2 linked regions of the Homo sapiens genome follow. The protein of the gene in region 1 interacts with the protein of each later gene in a pairwise test. Each region holds a gene or a part of one and is shown on either strand. Other genes may lie near its edges.

Evidence for each region. The genes of interacting proteins can lie anywhere in the genome.
Region 2: the proteins of XBP1 (region 1) and ATF6 interact in binary tests that used the Homo sapiens proteins (3 or more experiments, as listed by UniProt).

The regions. Positions count from the first base shown.
Region 1 is NC_000022.11:28,798,773-28,802,372, reverse strand, and holds the start of XBP1 (X-box-binding protein 1), read left to right. Parts: upstream 1-1,803; 5' UTR 1,804-1,848; coding exon 1,849-2,075; intron 2,076-2,295; exon of another isoform or gene 2,296-2,336; coding exon of another isoform or gene 2,337-2,413; intron 2,414-3,219; coding exon 3,220-3,316; intron 3,317-3,600. UniProt on the Homo sapiens protein: Functions as a transcription factor during endoplasmic reticulum (ER) stress by regulating the unfolded protein response (UPR).
Region 2 is NC_000001.11:161,846,257-161,850,081, forward strand, and holds part of ATF6 (cyclic AMP-dependent transcription factor ATF-6 alpha), read left to right. Parts: intron 1-192; coding exon 193-324; intron 325-3,825.

The DNA of each region.
Region 1 (3,600 bases):
TGCTCAGGAGGCTCTGGAGTTGGGACAGCCCAGTTAAAAAAAAAAAAATCATTGATTTCCCTCCCAACGAAGAGGGAGAAAACACGTTAGGAGACTCGTGGCCCAGTCCTGGCAAAAACCAAAACTATGTCCCTTTAGAGGGCTTAGATATCAAGAGATGGACTTGCTTTTAGTTCTTTTTCCCATCCTGTTCCCTCCCTACCAAAATAAAATTGACCAGCTAATCCGACTTAATAACACTAAAGAATTACTTAGGAACCTGCTATCTTAACATTTCACTTTTTGCATATCCTCCAAATACCAGGTAGCAGTCTTACTACTGTTTGCACCCCTAGAACCTGGAATAGTGCTGCCCGCAGAGGAGGAAGCAATAATTACTTGTTAGAGAAGGTATTGCTGTGCATTTCTGGGGAATTTCACATTTTGTAATTTGCTTTAAAAAAAGTGGACAGGCATATTTACGGGGGTTTCTCGGACTTCTCCATGTTAATATTCGTGTGTATAAATCGCTCCCGTGCTGCTCTCTGGGGGCCCCTCTTTCACAAACACCTGGCCACCCTCACGCCACAATGGCCAGGCAGGAACCTCGACCTCCCCTCGGAGAGGGGGCTCAGGGTCAACCCCGGGGTCTCAGTCTCTACATGTGACGTTTTCCTGTCCCCTCATTTAAAATAACAAGAGGCTGGGCGCAGTGGCTTACGCCTGTAATCCCAGCACTTTGGGAGGCCGAGGCGGGCGATCACGAGGTCAGGAGATGGAGACCATCCTGGCCAACACGGTGAAACCCCGCCTCTACTAAACTACAAAAAATTAGCCGGGTGTGGTGGCGGGCGCCTGTAGTCCCAGCTACTCGGGAGGCTGAGGCAGGAGAATTGCTTGAACCCGGAGGCGAAGGTTGCAGTGAGCTGAGATCTCGCCACTGCACTCCAGCCTGGTGACAGAGCCTGACTCCGTCTCAAAAAATAAGAAAAAAAAATAAAATAAAAATAATAGAGGCCGAAGCGGGAGGTTCACTTGAGCTCAGAAGTTCGAGATCAGCCTGGGCAACACAGTGAGACCTCGTTTCTATTTAAAAAATAAAATAAAACTAAATTTAAAAAAATGCACGCTCATAGTACAAACTTTAGAAATGGAACGAAAAACTAAAATTGAAGGTATTCCCCTCCAACCCAGAGATAACACCTATCGTTTATTAAGCCCTCACTATTGTTAAACTTAGTTTTAAAGGGCACGATCTCATTTCTTAAAGACTTCTATTCCGCAGAATTTCTTTCCAGGCTTTTTTCTTTTTCTTTTTTTGAGACGGAGTCTCGCTCTGTCGCCCAGGCCGGGGTGCAGTGGCGCGATCTCGGCTCACTGAAACCTCTGTCCAGTCTTTTCGAACCCAAGGCCCAACTGCGCTCTATCTCGACTTTCGGCTCCACTCGGATCCCGAAGTGGCGCACGAGATAAAATGTTGTCAGGCTGAGGTAATTCTCTGTTAGTCCCGGTAAAAATTCGTCAGTCTGGAAAGCTCTCGGTTTGGAATTAAATTCTGTCACTCCGGATGGAAATAAGTCCGCTTAAGGGGGGAAAATCCGTTTGTGGAGGACACGCTCCCGCACGTAACCCCCCGCGGAAAATGACCCCAAGTACCTTTGGCCAGGGATTGCCGCTGCCACGCCGGACTCCATAGCCACGGTCCTGAAACGCCCCGCCGGGCAGGCCGGACCAATGGACGCCGAGCTCGGCCGTGCGTCACGCGACGCTGGCCAATCGCGGAGGGCCACGACCGTAGAAAGGCCGGGCGCGGCGAGGCTGGGCGCTGGGCGGCTGCGGCGCGCGGTGCGCGGTGCGTAGTCTGGAGCTATGGTGGTGGTGGCAGCCGCGCCGAACCCGGCCGACGGGACCCCTAAAGTTCTGCTTCTGTCGGGGCAGCCCGCCTCCGCCGCCGGAGCCCCGGCCGGCCAGGCCCTGCCGCTCATGGTGCCAGCCCAGAGAGGGGCCAGCCCGGAGGCAGCGAGCGGGGGGCTGCCCCAGGCGCGCAAGCGACAGCGCCTCACGCACCTGAGCCCCGAGGAGAAGGCGCTGAGGAGGTGGGCGAGGGGCCGGGGTCTGGGGCCAGATCTGAAGCCGGGACTAGGGACAGGGGCAGGGGCAGGGGCTGGGAGCGGGGACCCAGCACTGGCCGCCCCGCAGGGCTCCGTCGCCTTTGGCCTGGCGGGTCGGTGCCAGCGTGGCGCGGGGCGGGGCAGGAAGCCCGGACTGACCGGATCCGCCACGCTGGGAACCTAGGGCGGCCCAGGGCTCTTTTCTGTACTTTTTAACTCTCTCGTTAGAGATGACCAGAGCTGGGGATGCGGGCACCTGTCTTCCAGGCCCTCTTGCTGTGTGGCCGCAGACTGGTGGTTCAGCCTCTTAACTCGGACATGAGGTCGAATAATCTGTTTTGGTTTACTGCTATTTCTGGAGAGGCGCGGAGCTGAAATAACAGAGCTGTTGAAAGGGCTGGGAATTCTGCGAGGCTCACTGGTCTAGCTCAGTATCTGCGTTCTTAAAATGGAACCTACTTCATGAGGTCTTTGGGGAGATTGAGACTTGGATATAATGTGCCTAGCACTTAGTCCTCCGTAAATGTTCACTCTTTTGTGATCATTGTGCCTTCTGTGATTTATGAAGTGTCTCTTCTGAGTTAATTCTTTTAAAAAAAAAAGTGTCTCCTCCAACAGACACGGACCCATCAGCAGGTCACTGCCTAGGATCTCAACACTAGAGATCAGGGAGTGGCATCAGCCTCTCCCTTTTCTAAATTGGACTGGGGGACGGAGGGTTGATGTCATAGCAAGATTGCAGCCTTCACTAGATTAATGAGGCCAGGTTGGATCCTGTTTAAGAGAACTGGAGACAGGAAGCAGCGGGGGAATAGATGGGGAAAGAGGAAAGTTCCTTATGATGCAAGATGAATAGTGTGTGTGTCCAGCCCCAGTGCTGTGACGGGGATGAGTCTGAGGTGGACGGATGATGCAATATAGGAGAGAATAAAGCAGGTCTTCGAGCTAGATTGACAGAAGACTGTATTTTTTATTTTGTTTTATTGAGGGGAGGAGCCTGAAGTGTATTTTATCATTAGTCTGTCTTATACTGTAAATAAAAATGAAAGCACCAGCTGGTAAAGTTTTCAAATAAAGACATAAATAAGGTTTGATATGACTCAGTGTGGTATGTTCCTTCTCTTCCTAGGAAACTGAAAAACAGAGTAGCAGCTCAGACTGCCAGAGATCGAAAGAAGGCTCGAATGAGTGAGCTGGAACAGCAAGTGGTAGATTTAGAAGAAGAGGTAAAACTACTTAAGGTCAAACTCTTTTATCCATTGTATACCCTTCCTTGGTGAATGTTCTGATATTTGCTTCCCATCCCAAGTTGTTTCAGCCCCTATTAGAATACAATTGAATATATGATTAAAAGTTAAACTAGGCTGGGCATGGTGGCTCATGCCTGTAATCCCAGCACTTTGGGAGCCTGAGTTGGGCAGATCACTTGAAGCCAGCAGTTTGAGACCAGCCTAGCCAACATGGTAAAATCCCGTCTCTACCCAAAAATATACCAAAAAAAAAAAAAAAA
Region 2 (3,825 bases), on another chromosome or scaffold:
TGATATGTGCAGGTTACCATGCTAAGGATTTGAACACCTTCAGTACCCTATTTGTACTTGCGTCTATGCCTAGCATTTTTGTTACGTGCATGGATCTGCAAAGGAATTGTGGTTTGTTTCACAGCTGCATGTAGCAGGCATATGTGTGACATATTTTTATTTCAGCTATTATTTCCTGTTTTTTATTTTCAGCATGTTGGAACAGGATTCCAGGAGAATGAACCCTAGTGTGAGCCCTGCAAATCAAAGGAGGCACCTTCTAGGATTTTCTGCTAAAGAGGCACAGGACACATCAGATGGTATTATCCAGAAAAACAGCTACAGGTAAGATGGCATGCATCTATCTTTTGGCCTAAGTGATTTAATGAAGCTGAAACAAGAGAATTATCTGTAGTATAACATTGCATCTAAATTGTTCGTGTATATTTTGAGTAGTAGAACACATAAATTACTGAAACCATTAATACATTTTACTTTTAATATTGTAAAATTAAATTTACTTTGAAACCTTTTGTAGTTTTAAAATTCCTATAGAGATGTAATCTTAAAATCTCAGTTTGTGTGCATTAATATACATATTGAAATATATACATATTATATATAATGTCTTTAATAATTATTTTATCTATCATGTGTTTATACATATAATACATCTAATATTTGTTACTGTCTCACCTGTGGATGGATATGATATGGTGGAATAACATGATTGAACCTATTTGCAGTCATTAGGTAAAATCATTTATACTCATTTATTGTGATCTTTGTTGAATCCCTCCCTTGTTGCAATTTAATAATGACTTGATAAATTTCCATATTGCTTGTCAATAGCAAAAGGCTTTAATTGTATAAAAATGCAATTTCTATATTATGTTAACTAGAAGAAGGTATAGTGGACATTTTTATAGTTGTATACTTTTTGATAAACATTTCCCTGTGTTATTTAGAATTTGTATTAGAGCCAAATGGAGCCAGGTCCTTGACTAACAAGGCAAAGGGAGGTCACAGTATGGTAACTATTGCACAGTATAATGCTTGAAAATTATTACAGATTTGTTTACTTTTATCTCTTTAAGGATTTGTAGGTTGAGGGCAATCTTTCTTCCTGATTTTTACTGTGTTACATCCATACTGTTGAAAGATGATCACCACAATCCTGCAGGCTTGTCTCCACTTAGCCTTCCTGAAAAAACTGTTATTTTTGTGGAGTACAGTATGCCAAGTCAGTGGAGGACCCAAAGGATTTTATGGCAGTAGCTGCAACGCAACATAGCAATGATAGATGTCATAATGTTGGAAAACATAGCATTTCCTGCTTTTTTACATGCCAAAATTCATCATACTTCTTAAAATATTCACCTTGATGATCTCTTAACGGTGCCCCTGAATATTGGTAGAGTTTAATAGTATATTTAATTTTCATAAGTAATTTGTGCAGGTTTGCCCTACGTGTTCTATAATTTTGAATTCTGTTAGTGTCCACATAAGATCCATCAAAAATTAAATTTAAATCTAATAGCCTTTGGATTTACGAGAGTTGAGATAGCGTCTTGCTAAAGAATAGAACAAGTTATGGATTGAATGCTTGAAATTACAGTTCAGGTAAGCTTTACAAGAATATTATTTATTCTGCACTAACTGCAGCAAGTAGAAGCCTTCCACATTAGCATAAGATAACATGGTGGCTCCCAGAAAGCATAGTAGTCTGATCATACTAGTTCAAACTAAAAGTCTGAATGACTTTCTGGCTGAAATTTATCAGCTTTCAGAGTAGTACATGGGATGCAAGCTATTTTTTCCCTCCCTTCTCCAAAGTCACCATTGAGTGAATAATCTGGGTTACTGGTCTTGGGGAAAAAAAAAAACCAAAAAACAACCCAGGAAAGATTATGGATTCTTGATTCCATGCAAGTCCTTTGAAATATTTTTCAGCAACTTGAGAGATTTAAATAAATGTCAGTCCATTAATTTGATGTTCTTGATTTTATCAGTATAAATACTGAATAAAAGATACCAAAAAATGTTTGTGAAACATTTGAAAGCACCTAATATTACTTTGTTCTGTGTTCTGAACTGAATTTTAGATGTTTTATCTATTTTCAGCCGTGATACCTATACATTTTTTTTAATGCAGCTTACTTTATGTTTCTTTTTCTAAGGAGAGCTATGAGACATGGTTCAAATAAAAAATGAGTAGATTCTAATCCCATAGTTTATAATATTGTATTAGCCTATCATTTAGTAATTAACTGCTTATATTTTTTCAGTCATAGAAATGTGTGGCATATAAATAGTATGACCATATAATGTTCTATCAAACTGGGACACTCTTAAGAAGGAAAGGTAGTGCTAGTAATAATTACATCAGAATACCAGTACTGCTGTCTTGGATAAATGAGAAAGGATGGTCACCCTATATAAGATGTCACCCAGAACTGATCTTTACTCCAAGAATTCTCATTAACTCTAGCTCCCTAGCACTGTCCTTTACTTTATTTACTTTAATGATTTATTTGTTGAATTTTTTTCTCTTGGCATAAAATGTTTGCAAGCAGACTCGAACTCTGACTGTTCCTGGGCTAATGTTGGTCTAATTGTCTCCAGATTGTATGTTGGCTGATTTTCTCTCTCCTTTAACTCCACCCAATCCTTGTCCTGGTATTTCTCCTATCAGACTTTTTTTTTTTTTTTCCAAAGAATATTTTTGGCTGATAGAACAAAGCCAGTTAGCACAGATGTGCAGAAATCATTACTAGAGTTCAGATCACAAATATATTTTCAAAAGCAGTTTTGGACTTTTCTCATGGACTACAGTGTTTGTATTTTTCTAAGTATGCAGGCATGATTTTTAAAATAATGCGTATGTCATAGATTTATAAGAAGAGGTGTTAAGCAGCCTCCTCTTAGAGGCATTCAGATTTATCAAACACAAGACAGATACTTTTTTTCCTTCTCACTCAATGCTTCATTTTAGGCTGATCCTTTTGTGTTTGCATTCATTACCTGTGCACCAACATGTCTGTTTTATTCCAAACAACTTAAACCTACTTAACCCTTACAGCCACAAGAGAGGACATTGAGAATATTCCTGGTGCAAGTTGCAGGGAAGAATGTTCTATATATCCTCTGCTATTGTTTCTTTTCTCTCGTGTGTGGCATAAATAGCTATCTCTAACTTTTAACTTGAAGTTAGCCTTCCACTCTGCCAGAGTTATTTCTGTTAAGGGGCCAGTGCTTTCTGCCATCTTACTTGCCCTTTCCTCAGCATTTGGCTGTGTGGGTCATTTGCTCCTTGAAAGACTTTCCTTTTGTGTTACTATGGTTTTTTAGTTTCCTTTTTTTATTGGCTGCTGCTTCACAGTAATCTTTGTGGGCTCTTTTTTTACCCAACTCTCAAGGTTTGGAACTGTAAACTTTTTTTATTTTCTTTCTGCCTAGGTGACTCATCTATAATTTCATGCACAGTTCATATCTATATGTCCTGATGACTCTCAAATTTATGTTTTCAGTCCAGACTTCTCTTCTGAGTCTCCAGAGTCACATATCCAATAGTCTCTTTGACATCTCTGTTTTAACATTTCAAACTTAACATGTGCACTGTGGAACTCAGTTCCTCTCCCTGTTTTACTTCCAACCAATTTTCTACAACTGTGTTTTTTCCTTTCCATTGCTTAAGCCAGAAATCCTGATTCCTGTCTTTCAACAAGTGTTGTTGATACTCTTCCCCAAAATTGTCTTGAATTGGTCCACTCCTCTCCGTCTCTGCTGCCACAAACCTAGTCCATGCCATCATCAGTTCTTGCCAGGATTGCCATAGCTCTTTCC